Linked DNA regions of Homo sapiens. The protein of the gene in region 2 interacts with the protein of the main gene of each other region in a biochemical or structural test. Each region holds a gene or a part of one and is shown on either strand. Other genes may lie near its edges.

The links.
Region 1: the proteins of MATK (region 2) and ERBB4 form a complex in vitro, tested with the Homo sapiens proteins (one large-scale study listed by BioGRID).
Region 3: the proteins of MATK (region 2) and PTPRD form a complex in vitro, tested with the Homo sapiens proteins (one large-scale study listed by BioGRID).
Region 4: the proteins of MATK (region 2) and ERBB3 form a complex in vitro, tested with the Homo sapiens proteins (one large-scale study listed by BioGRID).
Region 5: the proteins of MATK (region 2) and ERBB2 form a complex in vitro, tested with the Homo sapiens proteins (2 studies listed by BioGRID and IntAct, with this or other methods).
Region 6: the proteins of MATK (region 2) and MET form a complex in vitro, tested with the Homo sapiens proteins (one large-scale study listed by BioGRID and IntAct).
Region 7: of the proteins of MATK (region 2) and SMURF1, one has a biochemical effect on the other in vitro, tested with the Homo sapiens proteins (one large-scale study listed by BioGRID).

The regions. Positions count from the first base shown.
Region 1 is NC_000002.12:211,415,803-211,419,302, reverse strand, and holds part of ERBB4 (receptor tyrosine-protein kinase erbB-4 isoform JM-a/CYT-1 precursor), read left to right. Parts: intron 1-3,500. UniProt on the Homo sapiens protein: Tyrosine-protein kinase that plays an essential role as cell surface receptor for neuregulins and EGF family members and regulates development of the heart, the central nervous system and the mammary gland, gene transcription, cell proliferation, differentiation, migration and apoptosis.
Region 2 is NC_000019.10:3,777,473-3,780,427, reverse strand, and holds the end of MATK (megakaryocyte-associated tyrosine-protein kinase), read left to right. Parts: intron 1-630; coding exon 631-730; intron 731-810; coding exon 811-895; intron 896-976; coding exon 977-1,050; intron 1,051-1,240; coding exon 1,241-1,436; intron 1,437-1,832; coding exon 1,833-1,919; intron 1,920-2,005; coding exon 2,006-2,245; 3' UTR 2,246-2,455; downstream 2,456-2,955.
Region 3 is NC_000009.12:8,482,003-8,485,502, forward strand, and holds part of PTPRD (receptor-type tyrosine-protein phosphatase delta isoform 1 precursor), read right to left. Parts: intron 3,326-3,500; coding exon of another isoform or gene 3,323-3,325; coding exon 3,225-3,322; intron 2,377-3,224; coding exon 2,117-2,376; intron 1-2,116.
Region 4 is NC_000012.12:56,090,165-56,093,664, reverse strand, and holds part of ERBB3 (receptor tyrosine-protein kinase erbB-3 isoform 1 precursor), read right to left. Parts: intron 919-3,500; coding exon 845-918; intron 680-844; coding exon 589-679; intron 321-588; coding exon 115-320; intron 1-114. UniProt on the Homo sapiens protein: Tyrosine-protein kinase that plays an essential role as cell surface receptor for neuregulins.
Region 5 is NC_000017.11:39,720,564-39,724,063, forward strand, and holds part of ERBB2 (receptor tyrosine-protein kinase erbB-2 isoform a precursor), read left to right. Parts: intron 1-2,755; coding exon 2,756-2,894; intron 2,895-2,974; coding exon 2,975-3,097; intron 3,098-3,348; coding exon 3,349-3,447; intron 3,448-3,500. UniProt on the Homo sapiens protein: Protein tyrosine kinase that is part of several cell surface receptor complexes, but that apparently needs a coreceptor for ligand binding. Essential component of a neuregulin-receptor complex, although neuregulins do not interact with it alone.
Region 6 is NC_000007.14:116,699,696-116,703,195, forward strand, and holds part of MET (hepatocyte growth factor receptor isoform b preproprotein), read left to right. Parts: coding exon 1-589; intron 590-3,500. UniProt on the Homo sapiens protein: Receptor tyrosine kinase that transduces signals from the extracellular matrix into the cytoplasm by binding to hepatocyte growth factor/HGF ligand. Regulates many physiological processes including proliferation, scattering, morphogenesis and survival.
Region 7 is NC_000007.14:99,137,609-99,141,108, reverse strand, and holds part of SMURF1 (E3 ubiquitin-protein ligase SMURF1), read left to right. Parts: intron 1-3,500. UniProt on the Homo sapiens protein: E3 ubiquitin-protein ligase that acts as a negative regulator of BMP signaling pathway. Mediates ubiquitination and degradation of SMAD1 and SMAD5, 2 receptor-regulated SMADs specific for the BMP pathway.

The DNA.
Region 1 (3,500 bases), on a different chromosome or scaffold from region 2:
CCTTAAACAAACTTCATGAGGTTCTATTATTATCATCCCCTTCTTTCAAAGGAAGAAACTTGCCACAGAGAAGTCAGGTGATATGACTGGTGTCACACAGCTAGTCAGTGGAAGAGAGGAATAATGTAATCTAGATATCTGCCTACTACACTGTAGGTTTGCTTCAAAGTTACTGAAGCATGTTATTTCCATGATGTGATTAGAGTCTGGGACTTGTCTTGTTTGGGAAATTTCCCAGGTGGTTTTCTTATAAAATGCATCTCAAATCTGCTCTACACCTTTTACTCATCTACCTCCATTTAGAAGATCTGATATGGAAAGAGACAAAGATGGAGACCTCAATTATTTTTTCTTTTCTGTTAAAAAATATTATAGTACAAACTGAAAACTTTATCACATGCCCAATGGGGAATAGATAACTAAAAGTTTTAAAAATTAGATCAATGGATAGGTAATGAATAATCAGTCTTTTGCTTGTGAGAGGGGAAGAAAGCGGTTAAGGTGTATAAAGGAGGCTCTCTGTACACTTTGCAAAATGATCAAATTATATACCCTTGTATTTATAATTTTAAGTGACAAATTCATTACTTCTGGTTACAACAGTGAAATTTAAAAAAAAATAGTTTTTCTTTCTTAGCTTGCAATGCTATAAATCTTTTTCTTTTTATAAGAATTCTTACATTTCAGCTTTTTGTTCATTTTAATTTATAATTCTCAGTGCAAGAAATTCTTAATAAAGGTTTGAGCTAGCTAGATGGAATTATTGAGACAAAGTCTAAATCACCCGTGGACTTATTTGACCTTTAGCCATCATTTCTTATTCCACATTATAAAACAATGTTACCTGTAGATTTCTTTTTACTTTTTCAGTCCTTGGAAAAGAAATGGTGATTAAATATCATTGTATCATTTTATGTTCAGGCATTTAAAAAGCTTTATTTGTCATCTATATTGTCCTAATAGTTTTCAGTCTGGCTTTACGTAACTTTTACGGAAATTTCTAACATGTACAAATGCCATGTTCCTCCTTTCTTTCCTACATGGCTGAATTAGAAAACAAATTACTTCCATTTTAAGTTTGGCTAAATTAGAAAACAAATTACTACCATTTTAAGTTTGGTGGCTAAATAACGTGCTAAGGGAACATCTTAAAAGTGAATTTTGATCAAATATTTCTTAAGCATATGTGATAGACTTTGAAACCAAAAAAAAAAAAAATAATGCATTTTGAAAATATAGGCTCCACTGCGCACTAATTAAGAAACTTTAGGTAATGTTCTGAATATCTCTATGACTTTGTTTCCTCATTTTCTAAATGCTATATTGCCTATCTTATATGAGTGTTAGGCAATTAACTTTAAAAAATTGCAGAGTATTTATAATGCCAGGTAAACAAATTTTATTACTCTACTTTTAGAATCATCAATTTCACTTTTCATTTTTACCATTTCCATTTTTACCTTTTTCCTTGTCAATATCATATATCATAAATAATCACACTTTCTTATAAGGTGCTCTACCCACTATCTATGAAAAGCTTGTTGATGCAATTACTGCTTGGCCAGCAAATTATTTCTGCTGATGTGTTCTAATATCAAATAAAGACAGAAGTAATTTTTTATAGTGCTTTTGATTTTTTCAATTCCACAAATATTTTGATAAATTACAACTTTAAAGCAATGAATCAATTCAAAATACAATGTTTATATTTGTCCAGAAAGTTGATGAATACAAATTTAAGTCATGCTAGAAAACACTTACCTAATTTACAGCTGCTGTTACTATTGTTAGATATACTTTTAATATTACCTTAAAATTTTTTCTTTTTTGAGACAGGATCTCACTCTGTCACCCAGGCTGGAGTGCAGTAGCACGATCTTGGCTCAGTGCAACCTCCACATGCCAAGCTCAGGAGATCCTCCCATCTCTGCCTCCAGAGTAGCACCACAGGTGCATGCCACCCTGCCCAGCTAATTTTTTTTTATATTTTTTTGTAGAGACAGGGTTTCCTTATGTTGCCAAGGCTACTCTTGAACTCCAGAGCTCAAGCAATCCACCCACCGTGGCCTCCCAAAGTGCTGAGATTACAAGTGTGAGCCACCATGCCTGGCCTCAAATCTTTTTAAGCAATAATACACCAAAAGCTATTTTACTCTAGCGTGATGTAAAAATAGGAGAAAATGAGAAGCTATTTAACTTCTGCAAACCGTGCTCTATATCTGTAAAATGGGGATTTAAAAATTTTCTCACGGAATATTATGAAGATTACCTTTTTAGTGTATGCATGCACGTTACCTATTAATGGACCTGGAATAGATGCTCCAATAGTGTGGAAATAAATGAATATTAACCAAACGAAAAAAGCAAAGAGTATTTATTCAGAGACTGCTATAGCAAGAAAGTCAGCTCCATCAGTTACATTTTGGCAGAGACTTAAAGGCCCGCAGAGGAGTGGGAAAGCTGTGTAGGGTTAAAAAAAAAAAAAAAAAGGGAAGGCTTCATCTATGCCCTCATTAGAGACTGTTGGCCTGGGGAAGCTATAGGCAGGATAACTAGAAGCCATTGGTTAGAGGTGCATGTTTGACTTTTTTCTGTTGGTCTGAAGTTGGAAGCAAGGACAAAAATTAGGAAAGCTGCCAGTTATTAATCAATTCTGGTCATTTGGAGCTGATTGTTATACAAGTAATTGTGTAGCTTCCTGGGTTGTTACTAGAGATAGCAATCTGACTTCCTGCAAATCTGATTTACAAAAGGCTGGTTTGCTGGGCTGTTTATTGTAGATAAGGAGGTTTGCTTCCCAATTTGTTTCTATTTTTACATATGGTCAGGCCATTGTCCCTTTGTATATTCAGTCTATTGGATTTAGTTTCCATTGCGGCCTTCTTTTCTCTAGATATTTAAACACATGCTGCCTAATATTTTCGATTACATGTTCAGCATAATTTAAAAATTCTCCATAGGTTTTTTTTCTTTCTTTTTTGTTACAATGGCTAAGTTTGGTCTTTTGAGTTACCTAGAATTATATTTTTTTGATATAATAAATTGTATATTAAATGAAATAGCAATGAATAAAAATAGTGAATAAACTGATGTGGCTGAAGATATTTTAGCTTTAATGATATTAGAAAATTTAATTTAATGTAAAAGCTTCCATGTATTTTTATAGAGGAAGACATAGTTTCAATTGCAAGCCCATCCAGTCATTTGTAAGCAATAGTTTTAAGATTAAATGCTCCTCTGTCAAAACATATCAGCTAACTCTTAATTATCTCAGCCAGTGGAAGACAGAGAAATTGTAGCTACTCCACATTAGTGAAGTGAGTAACCCGCAATGGATTTATCATCACAATGTAACTTCTTTTTCCCTTCTTTTCTATCTGCTAAGAAGTAACTTTATTAAATAGATTTATTTGCATTTTCCTCTTCCTCTTACACGCTTTCTCCCAGAATAGATATATAAATAAACTGAAAAATAAAATGTAAGCAGAAGTGAAGAAGAA
Region 2 (2,955 bases):
TTAAAAATAAAAATGCAAAAAACATTTTGAGCTGAAGGGTCTTGCAAAAAGAGGTGATAGGTAGATTTGGCCCCGAGGGGGTGGGGGTTCACAGACCCCTGGCTTAGATGGTTCTCTCTTTGTTTTTGTTTTTTGTGGGGTTTTTTTTGAGATGGAGTTTCGCTCTGTCACCCAGGCTGGAGTGCAATGGCACAATCTTGGCTCACTGCAACCTCTGCCTCCCGGGTTCAAGTGATTCTCCTGCCTCAGCCTCCCGAGTAGCTGGGATTACAGGCATGTGCCACCACACCTGGCTAGTTTTGTATTTTCATTAGAGACAGGGTTTCTCCATGTTAGTCGGGCTGGTCTTGAACTCCTGACCTCAGGTGATCCGCCTGCCTCAGCCTCCCAAAGTGCTGGGATTACAGGCGTGAGCCACCGCGCCAGAGCCAGATGGTTCTCTGATCTTGGGTCTGGAGCTTGCAAGGGCGGCAGGGGTGAGGAGCATGGGGTCTGTGTTTCAAGGTCTGGGGACCCGCAGCTGTGTGAATGTTACATGGGCACCGGTGTGAGCGGGCCTGTCCGTCTGTCTCTCTGTCCCTGTTTGTTGGGGGTCCTGATCTCACCCCGTTCCCCACCCCCACCCCCCAGCTGTCCTGCAGGGTGAGTACCTGGGGCAAAAGGTGGCCGTGAAGAATATCAAGTGTGATGTGACAGCCCAGGCCTTCCTGGACGAGACGGCCGTCATGACGTGAGTCCCAGGGTGGGGCTGGGGACCGTGGGACGGGGGGGGTCCCAGCCCTGCCCTCACGCCCACCCCACCGCCCCCAGGAAGATGCAACACGAGAACCTGGTGCGTCTCCTGGGCGTGATCCTGCACCAGGGGCTGTACATTGTCATGGAGCACGTGAGCAAGGTGGGGCGGGGCCCAGGCGGGGAGGGGGCCCACGCAGCGGAGCAGCCCCAACATCCCGCGGCCATCTCCCACCCCCAACAGGGCAACCTGGTGAACTTTCTGCGGACCCGGGGTCGAGCCCTCGTGAACACCGCTCAGCTCCTGCAGTTTTCTCTGTAAGTGGGACTCTCAGGGTGCTGCGGCACTGGGGTCGTCGGGGCGCAGATTCCAAGATCCATCAAGGGGAAACTGAGGCACGGGGCAGGGAGGCTTTGTGAGCTTGTGGCCCCAGGCACCCCGAGCTTTCTGAGCCCTGAATGTGGGCATCCTGGCACCTGAGCCCCCACTGCCCCCTACTACCCCCAGGCACGTGGCCGAGGGCATGGAGTACCTGGAGAGCAAGAAGCTTGTGCACCGCGACCTGGCCGCCCGCAACATCCTGGTCTCAGAGGACCTGGTGGCCAAGGTCAGCGACTTTGGCCTGGCCAAAGCCGAGCGGAAGGGGCTAGACTCAAGCCGGCTGCCCGTCAAGTGGACGGCGCCCGAGGCTCTCAAACACGGGGTGAGCCCTGCCTTCACATACCCCTGGGGCTTTGGGGTCCCCCCAGCTCTGCTGTATGACCCTGGGTATGTCCCTTGGCCTCTCTGAAACTCCAAGGGCAATGGCTATGCCTCCCCAGGAAGCTCTTGGCCCATAATTGTTCCTCGTAGCCCCCCTCTGGGCCTCAGTTTCTCCAGCTCTGAAAAAGGCGTGGGCTCAGGACTGAAGGGAAGAATAACCAGGCTTCCTTCATGCACTAAGGCTGAGCTAGACTCAACTGCGGGCGGCGTTGGGGGAGGACTCAATTAGGAGAAGACCAGAGAGTGAGGGTCAACCCAGGAGGGCTTCCTGGAGGAAGCAGGGGCTGGAGCAGAAAACCTGAGGGGTCCCTCCTCACCCCCGTCTCGGGCCCCACAGAAGTTCACCAGCAAGTCGGATGTCTGGAGTTTTGGGGTGCTGCTCTGGGAGGTCTTCTCATATGGACGGGCTCCGTACCCTAAAATGGTGAGCGGGGGTCCCAGGGAGGCACTGGGTTCCGGGCAGGTCCAGAGGCTGTGGCCCTGACCCCTGCCCACGCCTGCTGTCCGCAGTCACTGAAAGAGGTGTCGGAGGCCGTGGAGAAGGGGTACCGCATGGAACCCCCCGAGGGCTGTCCAGGCCCCGTGCACGTCCTCATGAGCAGCTGCTGGGAGGCAGAGCCCGCCCGCCGGCCACCCTTCCGCAAACTGGCCGAGAAGCTGGCCCGGGAGCTACGCAGTGCAGGTGCCCCAGCCTCCGTCTCAGGGCAGGACGCCGACGGCTCCACCTCGCCCCGAAGCCAGGAGCCCTGACCCCACCCGGTGGGGCCCTTGGCCCCAGAGGACCGAGAGAGTGGAGAGTGCGGCGTGGGGGCACTGACCAGGCCCAAGGAGGGTCCAGGCGGGCAAGTCATCCTCCTGGTGCCCACAGCAGGGGCTGGCCCACGTAGGGGGCTCTGGGCGGCCCGTGGACACCCCAGACCTGCGAAGGATGATCGCCCGATAAAGACGGATTCTAAGGACTCTAGGCGCCTGTGTGTCTCTGTGTCCCCGTGCCCTCTTCCCCGGGGGCCACCTTTGGTGATCTGCTCTCGGACACCCCCAGGCGCCAGGCATCCTGGGTCCTCCCTTAGAGGTCCACCCCCCCTAGATGCCCTGTGTGCCCCAGCCCCAGTGGTCACCTTCCTACTCTGTGGAACCCACTGCAGCCCACATGATGGGATCAATTAATTGGGACCCCACTGATCCTTGGCCGAGTCTTGGGCACCCACCGGCCCCAAGCCCCTGCCTCCTGTGGCCACATGCCTGCACACGGGGGCCTCCCCATCTTGGCCCATGGAGGATCTGCCCAGCTGGCACCTGCCTGCTGGCCACTGTGGGGACACCGTTCCCTGGGGGATTCTGGGCAGGGGACCCACTTGCCATTACCCACGGGTTCCCCACTGCAGTCCCCCAGGGCATGTGGTATTCAGTGGTGGGCACCCTTTCCCAACCCATGGGGTCCCAGGCTTAAAGGATCTTGG
Region 3 (3,500 bases), on a different chromosome or scaffold from region 2:
GAACTCCTGACCTTGTGATCTGCCCGCCTCGGCCTCCCAAAGTGCTGGGATTACAGGCATGAGCCACCATGCCTGGCCATCTTTAATCTTAATAACTTCTCTAAGCCCACACTTCTAACTAGGTATTTCACTGATATTTCATATTAATACACACAACGTTAAACTCATTTACTTCTGAATTTTTTTATCCTTTAGGATGACACCATCATTCATTGTCATCCAAGCTCAGAACTCAGAGCCATATTTTACTCTCTTGATCTCATCATTAAAGCAGCTACCAATAATGTATGCTGTACTACTACTCTAGTGTAACTCATGTCTACCTCTGCATCCTACTTCCATCATCATCATCTTCCTTTAGAATCTTGTTATTTGCCTAGAGTCAACTATGTGACCACCTCCCAATAATTTTCTCTACCACTATCTCTATGGCGCTCCCATCTATCCAAATTCCAACAATGCATGAACTATGAATAAATGCCTCTCTGCTTGACCTTCAAACCTGGCATAGCAAGTTTCACCTAAACTTGAGGGTGTGAGATAGAAGAAATGAGAAAGGATTTATTCTTATTCCAAACAGGTAGCACAATAGATGCTCAACAAATATTTCCTAAAATGGAATTTTATTATGTATTATTGAAATGTTATCATGCCACTCTCCTGTGTAAAGAGCTGTAATGGGTTGCCATTGTCTAGAGGATATAGTTTTCACTTCTGGGTATACCCTTGGCTCTTGTATGCCTCCTTCTTCCTTCTCTTGCCACTTGTGGCCAGGCGCTCTGGGATCCAGCCGTATGGCACCACTGGGTGCCTTTAGTAATGGGCCTATGCACTTACCACTCCCTTTGCATATAGTCTCTCTTTTATTATTTGTATGCCTCCTATTTATCCCTTAAGATTTAAGTTCAGAAACTTTATTGACCCATTCTGAATTAGCTGCTCTTAAGATAAAGCATAATTCTATCATTAACGCTTACTACATCTGTCTGTTTCTCTGTATCTCTCTCACTCTATGGTAAGGTCTTTGAAGTCAGGAATCCATCTTTTTTTATTCCCCGGAGTCTACCACAGTACTTGTAGTTCATATATTTTGGTGAAAATACTTTTTTCTTCTATTAGTTATTCAACCAACTAGCTATATGTCCTTGGACAAACTTATTTAATTGACTGGATTTAATTTTCCACTTCAGGCCTGTTGGCCTCTATGCTGTGCTACATTCAAACCAGAAAACTTGAATTTTCTAATGTTTATATTTTTTCCAATGTCATTTTTAACTTTAACTTTTTGGAATTTTTCCTACTTTTAATACATCAGTGTCATATACCATTATCTAATTTCCCCCCCTTTTTTTCAACCTTTTAGTACTTTGTAAGACTTCTTCATAATTACAAAAATATTTTGCCAAATATTAGAGTTAATCACCTATTCACCTTATTCCATAAACTATGACATAAAATGCTTTGTAGTAGCCGGGCGCGGTGGCTCATGCCTATAATCCTAGCACTTTGGGAGGCTGAGGTAGGTGGATCACAAGGTCAGGAGATTGAGACCATCCAGGCTAACACGGTGAAACCCGGTCTCTACTAAAAATACAAAAAATTAGCCAGACATGGCGACAGGTGCCTGTAATCCCAGCTACTCAGGAGGCTGAGGCAATCCCAGCTACTTGTGACGCTGAGGCAAGGGAATCTCTTGAACCCGGGAGGTGGAGGTTGCAGTGAGCCGAGATCGCGCCACTGCACTCCAGCCTGGGTGACAGGGCGAGACTCCGTCTCAAAACAAAAACAAAAACAAAAACAAAAACAAACAAACAAACAAACAAACAAAAAGCTTTGTAGTAAGAACCATGTTCTATATGTTTTTCTGTTTCTCCTAAATAACACTGTCCCTGCAATACAGATTAAAAACTCACTGTTAAATTAATGAAAATCTGTGTTACAATGAATACTAGGACACGTTGTAAAAGAACTCGGATAGCAAAACTGGGAGTCTGAGCAGAAGAATCTTTCACTACATTAAGCAGTATCTTCTTTTACGACCTCTATAATTTTGAGATATAATGTTCCTATTTACCTATAATTCTTTCCTTCAGCCCTAAGCCTTCAATCAACTTACTTTATATTCTCATTTGCAGGTACTTCAGGCAGTTGCACAGTAATCATGCCATCCAAGTTGGTCTTCCCAATGAAGGCAGGCTTGGTACGTAATACATCTGGTGCAGTCTTTGCCGTGACCCTGTGCTGCAGCCCACCAGCACTGTTTCCACGATTTGTCAGCACAAATGAATATGATTTCTCAGGCTTCAGGTTGACAATTAACTTCTGTGTGGCTCGGCCATCCACTTCTTCTACCATTTTCCCATCATCATAAAGAATCTAAAGAGATAAAACCAATAAAAAAAAAATCTGGTTATCAGAGAGGCAAAATATATTTTCTAAACCAATGTGCACTAGCTTTTGGAAAATGTATATATAGTCAATTCTAATTTTAGGTGATTTCTAAGTCCATGAGTAGTCATAATTCTGGAGATCACATCAATTTTCCTGTCATTTCCTACTGTGTAATGATAAAATGTTTCCAAGTCTATCAAAAATACACAAAGATAGATATATACATATATATATATAGAAAATAACTTATCAATATTAGACCTGTCAGTTGTATGTGATCTTAATGGAATATGTGCAGAAAAGCTCTACGTTTCAACGTATTATGAATATTGCCTATTTTCTAAAGGTTTTGGTTCCTCTTTCTAAATATACTTTTACTTTCAAAAATGTTTCTCTATTTCTTATTTCATAAATATGTACTTGCTAACATCTCTTAATGGCAAGCCAGAGTTTAAAATGTGCCAAGAATACAGGCCAACAAACAAATTCAGAAACTCCCAGGGTATTATAATATAAATAGGTAGAAACCATGTAAATTTCATTCTCTGGCTGAAAAACAAAAGCACTAGCTTAGATGTAAAAAGTTCAAGTTCAAAGTAGTAGGTAACCTACAAGTGATGCCAGCCCTGGATTTAAGCTCCTGCTCCTTCTTCAGAGTGTAAAGGACACACTTACAAAGCACCAAACTGTCTCCCATGTGAAAGTCACAAATGAAAATAGCAAGGACACGTGGCCAAAACAAAGTGGTCTGCTTGCTGTGCAAATAACTTACCCAGATAAACTGTCCCCTCTACTTTTATCTGTGATTTCTTACAAATTAGAAAACAACTTACTTTGAAAGGCATGGCGGAGTTATAATTCTCTGGAATCTCCCAAGACAGCAACACGGAAGTCTTCATTACTGCTTTGACATGAAAATTTTTTGCAAACACTGCTGGAAAAGGAAAAACAGTGTATTTAAACTATTCTTAAAACAGATGACCTGTCCTTTCCACCATGGACCATAGGGGCTTATGCTAGATGCTGTCTACTTTGATCAGAGAGAGAAGTATGATTTTCCTACCTGTTTAGAGCATTCATTTTAATACCCCATTCTCACAGAGATCTTT
Region 4 (3,500 bases), on a different chromosome or scaffold from region 2:
CTTCTCCTTGGTTCCATCCCTCAACCCTACTCCCACGTCTAGGGCAGAATAGTCCTTTCAGCCCTCTCCTCCCTGACTCCCTATTCTCACCACCTAGCAGACCCTTTCCCTCACCGCAGTCTCTGCGCGGCCGATTATGCTTGATGTCTAGTCGCTCTTCCGTAGGCCCCCGAAGCACCTTGGTCCAGTTCAAAGAGTGGTGGTAGCAGAGCTGCCTATTGGCACTTATATAGATACGCCCAGCACTAATTTCCTTCAGGGATCGGAAGCCCAGAGATGTGACATTCAAGTTCTTCATGATCAACAATGAGAAGCCCCGGCTGAGAATAAGGAGACAGGATGAGAGGAGAGACTACTAAGGGAACATTAACTATTCAAAGGATTCATGTTAGTCAAGAAATTTGCTCAGTGCTAGTCAGATCCACTGAGAGGGAATCCCCCTCCTTTTGCCTTTTCCTCGTGAAACTCTGAAACCCTTTGGTTTTGAGGCACTGCTGTATGAGACAGTGCCTTGTATTTTACTAAAGAATGCCTATGACACAGGCTTCATTGCCTGAAGATGCCATTTCCTCCATACCCTTTACTCACTTGTAGAGGCTTCTGCCTCCAATGGTTGTCAAATTGGAAAAAACACTGAAGTTGTGCATGTGGGGCGGCCAGGACTGGATGTTCAGGTAACCTGAGGGGTTGGAGAGAGGCATATGGGCAGGGAGCCTTCTTCTTTCTTGGGTTCTCCTGGCTCCTCCCCTATAACTTGGGACGTGATTTTCTCAAGTAGTTATACCGCAATTTATGCCAGTGGTTCACCTATTCTTCTAGAAAGGGCAAACTCTCTGCCACTCACCTGTGATCTCCCGTACTGTCCGGAAGACATTGAGCTTCTCTGGGTCCAGGGCAGGGATCTTGTGCCAGGGGTCTCTGAATAGAACAGTAGAAACCAGTCAATAAGGTAAAGGTATAACTCAATGGCAATGAGCACACCCAGCCTCAGCATTTGGTTTCTAAATATCATTCTCCACTAAAAGGAAACATTCCTTGGAGAAATGGCTGGGATGGGGGAAATATAATATAAGCCCAGAGCATCTTGTGCAAACAAGACAAGACTCAAAGAATTAAGGGTACAGCCCAAAGAACACAGGAGCCAACTTGGAGGGGCTGGCTAAAATAAATAATGATTGTAAAGGATTATAACCATTGACTAGAATAAAATAAGTATCCATAAGAGTAAATAGGAAAGGAAGACCTTTTTTTTTTTTTTTTTTTTTTTTTTTTTTTGAGACAGAGTCTTGCTCTATCGCCCAGGCTGGAGTACAGTGGCAGCAATCTCAGCTCACTGCAACCTCCACCTCCTGGGTTCAAGTGATTCTCCTGCCTCAGCTTCCTAAGTAGCTGGGAATACAGGAGCACACCACCATGCCTGGCTAATTTTTTGTATTTTTAGTAGAGACAGGGTTTCACCATGCTGGCCAGGCTGGTCTTGAACTCCTGACCTTGTGATCCGCCCGCCTCGGCCTCCCAAAGTGCTGGAATTACAGGCATGAGCCACTGCACCTGGCCTTTTTTTTTTTTTTTTTTTAAGAGACAGGGTCTCACTCTGTTGTGCAGAGTGAGTGCACTGGCTGGAGAGCAGTAGTGCCATCATAGCTCACTGTAACCTTGAACTCCTGGGCCCAAGCAATTTTCCCACTGGCTCCCAAAGGGCTGAGATTACAGGCATAAGCCACTGTGCTCAGCTGGAAAGACTCTTCCTAACAGTAGAATGCCAACAAACAAATGCAGAAGGAATAATGGAATTAGAAAATTATCATTTGGCAACTATCATAACAATAATTGATTCAGGCAATTATCCCAAGACATTCATTAATTGTGAATGGAAAAATAGTAACTTTACAGTAGAAAAACCTGACAGATATCACCTTAACTAAGTGACCAGAGACATCATTGTGAGTGCTGGGACAAATCAACATCACGTACATCCTCAATAGGATGCCCTGAGCTCACAGCCTCTGTGGTGTTCTTATCAAACTCCAGCCTGGCAGCGGCGCATGCCTATAATCCCAGCACTTTGGGAGGCTGAGACAGGAGGATCACTTGAGCTCATGAGTTCGAGACCATCCTGGACAACATGGTGCAACCCTGTCTCTATAGAGAATGGCTTGAACCTGAGAGGTGGAGGTTGCGTGAGCTGAGATCACGCCACTGCACTCCAGCCTGGGCAACAAGAGCGAGACTCCGTCTCAAAAAAAAAAAAAAATATATATATATATACACACACATATATAAATATATAAATAGTATATAATATTTATGTTTATATATATTTATATATATTATTTATATATATATATTTATATTTATATATATTATTTATATATATATATATATATATATATATATAAAATTAGCCAAGCATGGTGGCATGCACCTGTAATCCCAGCTACTCAGGGGGCTGAGGTGCTCGCTTGAGCACGGGAGGCAGAGGTTGCAGTGAGCTGAGATCATGCCACTGTATTCCAGCCTGGGCAATAGAGCCAGACCTTGTCTCAAAAAAAAACTACAAAAACTTGAATCTAATCATGAGGACACATCAAACTAATCCAAACTGAAGAACATGCTGCCCATTACCTAATCTATACTCATCAAGAATATCATGAAAGATAAACAAAACCTGAGGAGCTGTTATAAAGGAGATTGAAGTGCCACGATAACTGAATGTAATGTATGATCCCAAACCTTAGGAGGACAATTAGTGAAATCTGAATAAGGTCTGTAGCTTAGATAATATTTTGTGTTAATGTTAATTTTCCGATTCAAACAACTATGCTGTGGTTATGTAAGAAAATATTATTTTTAAGGAATATACGCTGAAATATAACAGGGGTAAGAAAGAACCATGTGTGAAAATTTACCCTCACGTGGTCCAGAAAAACAATAGCATGTGTTTTGTGTGTGTGTGTGTGTGTGTAGAGAGAGACAGAGAGAGAGAGAAGTGATAAAGCGTATGTGGTATTTTTTTTGGCGGGGGACAGAGTCTCGCTCTTTCACCAGGCTGGAGTGCAGTGCCGCGATCTCGGCTCACTGCAACCTCTGCCTGCCAGGTTCAAGCTATTCTCCTGCCTCAGCCTCCTGAGTAACTGGGACTACAGGCGCACACCACCACGCCCAGCTAATTTTTGTATTTTTAGTAGAGATGAGGTTTCACCATGTTGGCCAGGATGGTCTCAATCTCTTGACCTCGTGATCCACACCTAGTGATCCACCTGCCTCAGCCTCCCAAAGTGCTGGGATTATAGGCATGAGCCACTGTGCCCGGCCATATGTGGTATGTTAACATTTGGAGGATCTGGGTAAAAGAGTGTATGGGGGGCCAGACGCGGTGGCTCACACTTGTAATCCCAACACTTTGGGAAGCTGGGGCGGGTGGATCACTTGAGGTCAGGAGTTCGAGACCAGCCTGGCCTACATGGTGAAACCCTGTCTCTACTAAAAATACAAAAATT
Region 5 (3,500 bases), on a different chromosome or scaffold from region 2:
TGTGCTAAGCAAGGGGGTATGGAGAGGAGAGGGTGACAAGAATATTGGATCAACACCCGGGAGCTCCATCTATCCCAGGATGCACTATCTTTTTTTTATTTTTTTGAGACGGAGTCTCACTCTGCCTGCAGGCTGGAGTGCAGTGGCTCCATCTCGGTTCACTGCAACCTCTGCCTCCTGGGTTCAAGCGCTTCTTGTGCCTCAGCCTCCCAAGTAGCTGGGATTACAGGCACATGCCACCACACCCAGCTAATTTTTGTATTTTTAGTAGAGACGGGGTTTCACCATGTTGGCCAGGATGGTCTCGATCTCTTGACCTCAAGATCCGCCCACCTTGGCCTCCCAAAGTGCTGGGATTACAGACATGAGCCACCGTGCCCAGCCAGATACGCTATCTTTTTATTGAGTGATTGAGACAGGGTCTTGCTCTCTTGTCCAGTCTTGAATGTGGTGGTGTAATCACAGGCTCACTGCAGCCTTGACCTCCTGGGCTCAAGTTACCCTTCTGCAGTAGCTGGGACTATAGGAGCGTGCCACCACGCCTGGGTAATTTAAAAAATTTTTTTTGTATAGACAGGGTCTCACTATGTTGCCCGAGCTGGTCTCAAACTCGTGGGCTCAAGTGATCCTCCAGTTTTGGCCTCCCAAAATGTTGGGATCACAGGAGTGAGCCACCACTCCTGGCGATGAGCCAAGTCTTTTTTTTTTTTTTTTTTTTTTGATATGGAGTCTTGCTCTGTTGCCCAGGCTGGAGTGCAATGACACGATCTTGGCTCACTGCAACCTCTGCCTCCCAGGTTCAAGCAGTTCAAGCAATCCTCCTGTCTCAGCCCCCCAGTAGCTGGGATTACAGGCATGCGCTACCACGTCCGGCTAATTTTTGTATTTTTAGTAGAGATGAGGTTTTGCCATGTTGGCCAGGCTGGTCTTGAACTGCTGACCTCAGGTGATCCACCTGCCTCGGCCTCCCAAAGTGCTGGGATTACAGGTGTGAGCCATCGTGCCTGGCGGAGCCGAGTCTTAAAAGATGACCCTGTGGAGAAATGGTGGTCCAGGCTGAAGGGACAGCCTATGCAAACACTGGGAGGTGTGGAAAATCATGACCTGTGGGTGGAAATTTTGGCTAGAACATCAAAATCATCAGGTGTACATTCCTGTACCCATGCAGCAGTCAGAATCTCTGGGGGTGGGGCCCCAAAATTGTATGCATACAGACTGTGTGCTGATTTGTGATATTACTTAGGATTTTTTGACTTTACAATGGTGGAAAAGCAATAATATACATTCAGTATAAACCGTACTTTGAATACCCATACAGCCATTCTGTTTTTCACTTTTATTTTTATTTATTTATTTATTTATTATTTATTTTGAGATGTCATTTTGCTGTTGTTACCCAGGCTGGAGTGCAATGGCGCAGTCTTGGCTCACCGCAACCTCCACCTCTCAGGTTCAAACGATTCTCCTGCTTCAGCCTCCAGAGTGGCTGGGATTACAGGCAGGCACCACCACACCCGGCTAATTTTGTATTTTTAGTAGAGACGGGGTTTCTCCATGTTAGTCAGGCTGGTCTCGAACTCGAGAGCTCAGGTGATCTGCCCATCTCAGCCTCAAGCCACCATGCCCAGCCCTACTTTCAGTATTCAATAAATTACATAGCCAGGCACCGTGGCTCACACCTGTAATCCCAGCACTTTAGGAGGCCAAGGTGGGAGGATCCTTTGAGGCCAGAAGCTCGAGACCAGCCTGGGCAACATAGTGAGACCCCATTTCTACAAAAAATAAAAAAACTAGCTGAGTGTGGTGGCGTGTGTCTGTAGTCCCAGCTACTTGGGCAGCTGAGGTGGAAAGACTGCTTGAGCCCAGAGGTCAGGGCTGCAGTGGGCCATGATCTCACCACTGCACTCAGCCTGGGCAACACAGCAAGGCCCTGTCTCAAAAATAAATAAATAAATAACACAAACTTATTTAACAGTTTACTATAAAATAGGCTTTGTGTCAGATGATTCTGCCCAACTGTAAGCTGCTGGCAGTGTAAATGTTCTGAGCACGTGTAAGCCAGGCTAGGTGTCTTAAATGCATTTTCAGTTTCAACTTAGAATTGGTTTATCAGGACGTAGCCCCTTGGTGTTGAGGGGCATGTGTATTAACAGTCTCCTTAGTGACTTTTTTTTTTTTGAGATGGAGTCTTGCACTGGCCGTAGTGCAGTGGCACAATCTCAGCTCACTGCAACCTCTTGTCTCCCGGGTTCAAGCGATTCTCCTGCCTCAGTCTCCCAAGTAGCTGGGATTACAGGCACCCACACCACGCCCAGCTAATTTTTGTGTGTGTGTATTTTTAGTAGAGACGGGGGTTTCACTATGTTGGCCAGGCTGGTCTCGAACTCCTGACCTTGTGATCTGCCCACCTCAGACTCTCAAAGTGCTAGGATTCCAGGCATGAGCCACCGCGCCCAGAGTCCTTAGTGATTTTTACACCATGAATTGTTGAAGCCCTAAGCCAGAGCCAAGGGCAAGAGTATAGAGAATCTGGAGATGCGGAGAGGGTTCTGATTGCCTACAAGGAGTTTGGACTTTATTGTGGAGGCAGCGGGGAGCCAAGGCAGGTTTTAGAGTAGGAGAGGGTCCAAGCCTGTGGGTCACCCTTCCGACTTCCCTTTCCGAATGCCAAACACCTTCATGTCCCCCGTGGGCCCCCTTTGTCCCTCCCACCCCAAACTAGCCCTCAATCCCTGACCCTGGCTTCCGCCCCCAGCCCTCTGACGTCCATCATCTCTGCGGTGGTTGGCATTCTGCTGGTCGTGGTCTTGGGGGTGGTCTTTGGGATCCTCATCAAGCGACGGCAGCAGAAGATCCGGAAGTACACGATGCGGAGACTGCTGCAGGAAACGGAGGTGAGGCGGGGTGAAGTCCTCCCAGCCCGCGTGGGGTCTGCACCGGCCCCCGGCACTGACCCACCACCCCCTCACCCCAGCTGGTGGAGCCGCTGACACCTAGCGGAGCGATGCCCAACCAGGCGCAGATGCGGATCCTGAAAGAGACGGAGCTGAGGAAGGTGAAGGTGCTTGGATCTGGCGCTTTTGGCACAGTCTACAAGGTCAGGGCCAGGTCCTGGGGTGGGCGGCCCCAGAGGATGGGGGCGGTGCCTGGAGGGGTGTGGTCGGCAGTTCTGATGGGAGGGGCAAGAGCTGGAGGCAGTGTTTGGGGGAGGGCAGTTACAGCGGAGAAGGGAGCGGGGCCAAGCCCTAGGGTGGTGAAGGATGTTTGGAGGACAAGTAATGATCTCCTGGAAGGCAGGTAGGATCCAGCCCACGCTCTTCTCACTCATATCCTCCTCTTTCTGCCCAGGGCATCTGGATCCCTGATGGGGAGAATGTGAAAATTCCAGTGGCCATCAAAGTGTTGAGGGAAAACACATCCCCCAAAGCCAACAAAGAAATCTTAGACGTAAGCCCCTCCACCCTCTCCTGCTAGGAGGACAGGAAGGACCCCATGGCTGC
Region 6 (3,500 bases), on a different chromosome or scaffold from region 2:
TTATTTCCCAGATCATCCATTGCATTCGATATCAGTGAGAAGGCTAAAGGAAACGAAAGATGGTTTTATGTTTTTGACGGACCAGTCCTACATTGATGTTTTACCTGAGTTCAGAGATTCTTACCCCATTAAGTATGTCCATGCCTTTGAAAGCAACAATTTTATTTACTTCTTGACGGTCCAAAGGGAAACTCTAGATGCTCAGACTTTTCACACAAGAATAATCAGGTTCTGTTCCATAAACTCTGGATTGCATTCCTACATGGAAATGCCTCTGGAGTGTATTCTCACAGAAAAGAGAAAAAAGAGATCCACAAAGAAGGAAGTGTTTAATATACTTCAGGCTGCGTATGTCAGCAAGCCTGGGGCCCAGCTTGCTAGACAAATAGGAGCCAGCCTGAATGATGACATTCTTTTCGGGGTGTTCGCACAAAGCAAGCCAGATTCTGCCGAACCAATGGATCGATCTGCCATGTGTGCATTCCCTATCAAATATGTCAACGACTTCTTCAACAAGATCGTCAACAAAAACAATGTGAGATGTCTCCAGCATTTTTACGGACCCAATCATGAGCACTGCTTTAATAGGGTAAGTCACATCAGTTCCCCACTTATAAACTGTGAGGTATAAATTAGAAATAAGTATCAGTCTCAAAAAGAATATCCAGGGCTTCTTTTGTGCTTTGTAAATGGTGTTTATCCAAAATAGTTGCAGATTTTTTCCAAGAAAATTGAGGAATTGAATCTTCATTTACACCTAAAATTATATCTTTAAAATGTAAATGGTAACTAAAAGAAAAATGTTTTTACAATTCAGATTTGCATGTTCGTGACATTTCAGATTATATTAAAGTTATTTCCCATATAAGCTTTTTTATATTTACACAGATTTTATCAGATTTACACAGATTTTATCAGATTTACACAGATTTTTATCACAGCAGCAATTCCCATAAAACATAATTATTGACATTTCTATATAATCTCTGCAACATTTACAAGATGTTCAAGCTAATTTGTATGCCTTAAAGAATTGTTCCTTATGAGATTATATTCTCTCACTGATACACAACTGATTAATCTATATTCTTGACATTACTTAAAGGAACTTAACTTTAAAAAACCTCTTCTGAAATGCTGGTAAATAAAACATTTTTAAATGAGCTCGTATACTTCTCTAAATAACCTGTAAGAGTAGAGAGGAAATGTTTGTTCCCAAGTCCTTCCTTTAGAGCTTGACTTTAATCATGGACTTCCTTCTGGAAAAGACTTGTGTCTACCAAGTTCTAGCTTGGCACTTTACCTGGTTGGTATTTGTTATTTATAAGCATAAATATTTTGGTTGATGATTATTTATACTTATATGAAATGGTATTTTCTTAGGAGCTGTTAGAGATATTCTTGGTGCTGTGATTTAAATATAGTAACAGCTACCAGCTATACCTGGAGATTTATCCTGCTAGTCAGTTGATCACCTGGTCTGAGTGTTTATTGTGGCTTTGAGTTTCTTGATCTGGGCCAGATTTGGAATACGGACCTGACTATGACCATCATTGAATGAACAAATAGTATAGCTTTTCTAAAGACAGTTTGACTTTGGCATGGTATGTTTCACTTACTTTAACAGGTTTCAATCTAAGATATAAAGGTTATAATTGCAATCAGGTAGAACATTAAACATGTCCTCAGTAGCATAAAGTATATAATTTGCTGAGGGGTAAAGGCATATGAATTCAGAGACATTTGGTTGACTTTTGCTGAAATGTCTGGGACACTTCTCTAGATGGAAACTATAGTTAACTTTTTATGATGCTAGGAAAATACTTCCAAGAAAGTCAGTTCATCTTTTGGTGAACTAAAAACAAAACTTCCTTCCTCTCTCTTCCAAAGTCTATGAATATACATAACATAAATGCACATACATTCCAACTAAGACTTATTTCCCCCTACATACATTTAATATATGTTGCAAAGAAGCAATAGAATTCCTTATGAAGCTCCCCCTTTTCTTTACTAGAAACTACAAAAGAATGAAAGGAAACAAAATGATTTTCAGAAACCTGGGATTAGGAAATAAAAATATAATATTAATAGCATTACAGAGAAGATATTTTTCTGCATCCAGTAAGTTGATTCTGAGACACAAGTTTTAAAAGAGTCTATTAGGAATTCCTCCAGGGCTCCTAGAGCACATGGATTTGCTATTTAAATCTTTCTTTGTTAAAAATTAAAAAGAAGGGTAGGGCAAGAAAAAAATTAAAAAGAGAATTCATAAAGGTATATTGATATCTCATTTTTTAAATTTTGTACATTTCAATCCTTAGATGTAAAAATACTTATCAATTCTAGAAATTCTCAAAACACATCTGAATTTTATCCTACCCTTTTGACTTTTTTAGTGTTCCAAGGGAGACAAACAGACAGGATTAGCCAATGAAATTCAGGTCAGTTTTATCGCCCAGGAAAAATTCCCAAAATGCACTAGCCACACCTGAAACCATTATCACTCCCATCACAAAAATTCTTGCGGGAAACAAGATGGAACTTGCCAACATAGTCTTCTTACAAAGGAAGCCAACTTTTACACTGGCCAAATTCCATAGACAAATACCTTCAAACCTCCTCTATTTATTTGCCTGTTTATCTTCTCTGGTTACAAAGATCAAAATTCTTCTGAGACTGAGACTACACATATTCTCTCTCTCCATATACCCCATCCAGACCTCAGATTGTTCCAATAATGAGCATATAATCATTTCCTAGCTTAATGCCAAAATGAAGGCACCTAGAGCCATTCATCACACACAAAAAAAACAAAATGATTACAAGATCAAAGCTGTTTAGCAGGACTCTCAAGCAATAAGATGACTCCATTTTGTCTTGGCAGATTTACTTGGCCAGAAATCAAGTGACCCTTTTAATAATTTCTTGGAACTGAGTTTTTACTTTGGCATCAAGTTTGGTGAAAAGACACACATATTGTAGTTTTGTTATTAACATCTCTAATACATTTATAAAGGGACTCTTGTGGACAAGGTTAAGAAAGCTGAGCTGCAGCAGTAACTTTCTACTTATGCTTCTGCCCAGTCCTCAGTGTTGACACATTGCTGAAAGAGGGATTTCCTGGCACTCCAAGAGCTCTCCACCATGTGCAAAAAGTGTTTCTATCACAAGATCAGATAATGGGAGTGCCAGGGACGGGCCTTTTACATTTTAGGGGTCCAGCAGGTGTACCAGGCCTGACTTGCTTGTTTAGGATCACATATTTTGTTGCTTTTCCCAGTCTCACATTTCATGAAATATGTCTATGCAAACTCTTCACATGCATCTTCTCATATTGATGACATCACAAAAGCCCTCTTTTGAGTCATTTGATAATTCCCAGTACTCGTCATCTTCACCCATAAGCTATTTGTGCTTCAGAACTCTTTGTCTCCACATATGATGCTGTTTCTGGAAACTTATCCCAAGCCACAAATGCCCACTTATAGAATACCAGT
Region 7 (3,500 bases), on a different chromosome or scaffold from region 2:
CCCTTTCCCTTTCCCTTTCAGTAGATGTTATGAATGGTTTGAGAGGATTTGTGAGTGTGATCATCCTTACAATAGGATTGCGGTTTAGCGGTAATGGTACACATGCAATGCCAGTACGTGGAACCTTAGTTTACCTCGAAAGGTTTGAACTAGAAGTTTGTTGACGGTGGAATAGGTTTTAGTCTCATCTTTCTGGTTAAGGGAAGTTTGAATTCTCACTTCTGGGATGTTGAGAAGCAATCTTTCAAAATTTGAATACTTTTGTTACAGGTTTCAGAGTTTATTTCCATGTTTGTTATTTGGAAAAAAAAAAAAGACTGTTAAAAATGAGGGATATTTCAACCAGTCAATGAATAGACACAGAGCGAAATTCAGTGCAAAGATAGTGAAGATGGCCTGGCGCCGTGGCTCACGCCTGAATCCCAGCACTTTGGGAGGCTGAGGCAGATCACGAGGTCAGGAGGTTGAGACCATCCTGGCTAACACGGTGAAACCCCGTCTCTACTAGAAATACAAAAAATTAGCTGGGCGCGGTGGCTCACACCTGTAATCTCAGCACTTTGGGAGGCTGAGGTGGGGCGGATCACGAGGTCAGGAGATTGAGACCATCCTGACTAACACAGTGAAACCTCGTCTCTAGTAGAAATACAAAAAATTAGCTGGGTGTGGTGGCGGGCGCCTGTAGTCCCAGCTACTGGGTAGGCTGAGGCAGGAGAATGGCTTGAACCTGGGAGGTGGAGCTTGCAGTGAACCGAGATTGTGCCACTGCACTTCAGCCTGGGCAACAGAGTGAGACTCTGTCTCAAAAAAAAAAAAAAAAAAAAAAAGGATACTGAAGATACTACATTTAGAACTTTGGGGTCCACGATTCTATTTGGGGGTGAATAGGGCATTAGATTTACAGTTAGGAGACCTAGATTCTAGACAGATTTCTCATTAACTACATGTTACGGAACAAGTTATTTAACCTTTTTGGGTCTCAGTTTCTTTATATATCAAATGAGATTTCAGCTCCATTATAATACTCTTTGATCCTCCTTCTCACAGGATATATCAATTTAGCTACCTACTTATTTCAAATTACTGTTGGGCACTTGGGCTTAGTGGTATTCTTAATCCTGATATTCAGAAAATTGTGTTGGAGTGTAGCACATGTGTTTGATTTATGCCAAGCATTAATTTTGTGTATTGATTACATTTATGACTTTATTTCTTCATGTGGGATTGTTTTTGAAAACTGTTGGGTAATATGTTGAACTGCTTTGGCAACCTGGTCTAAACAGTAGAAGAATATTTGAGCCTTTGTATTTAAAATAATAACATTTTAACGAATGTTTTTGTGGTATTTTAGTAGGAAAATAGTTTTTAAATGGTTTCAGTAGGTTTAGGGGCATAATATATCCAGAATCAAGTGATCTTTTGTTAAAGAGCATTATCTTGTAGTCATTGGAGTTCACTGGCAAATCAAACACTTTAGAAACATTTTGATTGAAAAATCAAGCAGGATTTGCAAAAACTTTGTTCTTATCTGGTACACAAATGAATCCCAGACACATTGTTTAGGCCACTTTGGGTAAAAGAATGGAATTCAGGGTTCTACAATGCTCTTCAAGAAAATTAAATTTTATTGTAATGTCAACCAATTAGTTGAAATACAAGTGCCTAAACTTTTTTGTGCTTTTATGCATTGAAATACTCTCAGATATCCTGGTGTTTTTATATCTTTTGGAGCATGACTGCATATTGTGAAGTAAGAAAAACTCTAATTCCAAACAGAGAGGAACAAAGAGACTTTCCTTGATAGCATGTGGAAATATGAGGTTGTTTTTAAAATTGTAGCTTGTGGGATGTAAGGGTGACTTGTGTTTTGGCATTCAGATGGTGCAACTGTGAGTGAAATAGTTGTGGTAATAGCTGTTGATGATGTTGGTTGATGAATTACAGGTGTCTCAATTGATTCAAAATAGTTAAGTCTCTCAAGAAAGATTAAGAAAATTGTTAAGACTGTTGACTTTGTCAATTTGTACCAGCTAAGAACCTCACTTATGTGAGGCAGGCAAAACTTTTGTTTCAAAAACCATATAACACAGTTGCTGTGATAAGATGGAATAAGTGGTCAGTTTTTAGCTCCCTTTGCATTTACATTTTCCTTAGGGTCTGCCTCAAGTTTAGGAAGATACAGTTAAGGCAGTTCTTTGAGATGAATTATTGGAAGGTGTAGGATGGGTTAGAACAAATGCTGTTGCAAAACTTGAATTGCAATTATACTTTAAGAAGAATCACATTCTGCCAAATAGAGGTTTTTGTCATTGATTTTGTGATTTGATCACATTTGTGTTGCCTTTTAGAACAACTTTCTTTTTTCAAATCCATTTTTTTTTCCTTTTAATCTTCTTGGCCCACCCAACTGACTTTAGACATGAAATCTTTCATATGCTTTATTTCTATCTCCATTTTTACAGTAGTTGTGATTTATCAAACTAGGATTTTTAACTTCAAGTCCATCTGTCAGAGTTTAAAACCTCTAGTCTTGCAGTTACAAAAGTCCTTTCTGAATGTTGGGTTTTTCTTTCTCTTCCACACATTTTCATTTTCTCGGTTCAGTCACAATGTCAGGTTCTAGTGTGGAAAATTGGGTGAAAGAAAGGTTTTGGAGGCTGTGTTATTTATGAAATATTTCCTCATGGATTAAGAAAGAAAAAAAGACAAAACGACAAATAGTGTTTCAATATCACCTCAGTGATCCAGTTAACTAGACTGGCTGTTTTGTACAACATCGTGGGCACTGGTTAACAGTTAAAATAGCTGAATTGTGCGTTTTATTCAGTGGTTCAAAAAAGCCTCAAATGGATGAAATAACTTGATATCTTCGCCATGCTCTGATTTGCTGGGTAAGACAGCTAACTTTTAGGATGCTTATTTGGATCAATTTTTTATAATTTCAAAACCATTTTAGAGGCTAATTTTTTTTTAAACAAGGAATATACAATTTTTTTTTTTTGTCACTGAACAAGTTTTAAATTACTGGTTTGTTATTTTGTAAGTGAATTTGTAAGTGAAAGCCTCCAACTTAAATTAGCTTCTTGTCCAGGGAACTCATTCTGACTGACTAAAGTCCCTAAGGCCTTTCTAGTTAAAGGAAAGCCATGGAGCTATGTTTAAAAAACAAAAGCACATAGCTATGGGGCTTGGGCATATCTTCTTTTTAAAATGTCACTATTACTGTTTTGTCTCCAGATGCAATTTAATCCATTTAGATATTTAAACCAAGTGGAATGTTGTTTCCACATTTCTGGACTAATGGGGGAAAAAACACCCTCATATTGTTTTAAAACAAGGCTTAAATAATGTATAATCAGCGCGTCTGGTGACGCGCCCCACTCTGTAATTCCAGCTGTGTTCACCTCCACTGCAGCTGAAAGGAATTCTAATTGGCTGAGGAATGTCGGCAACATCGTTTATCACTGAGCAGGAACCTATCCTCCTGGCTGCTGGGTGAT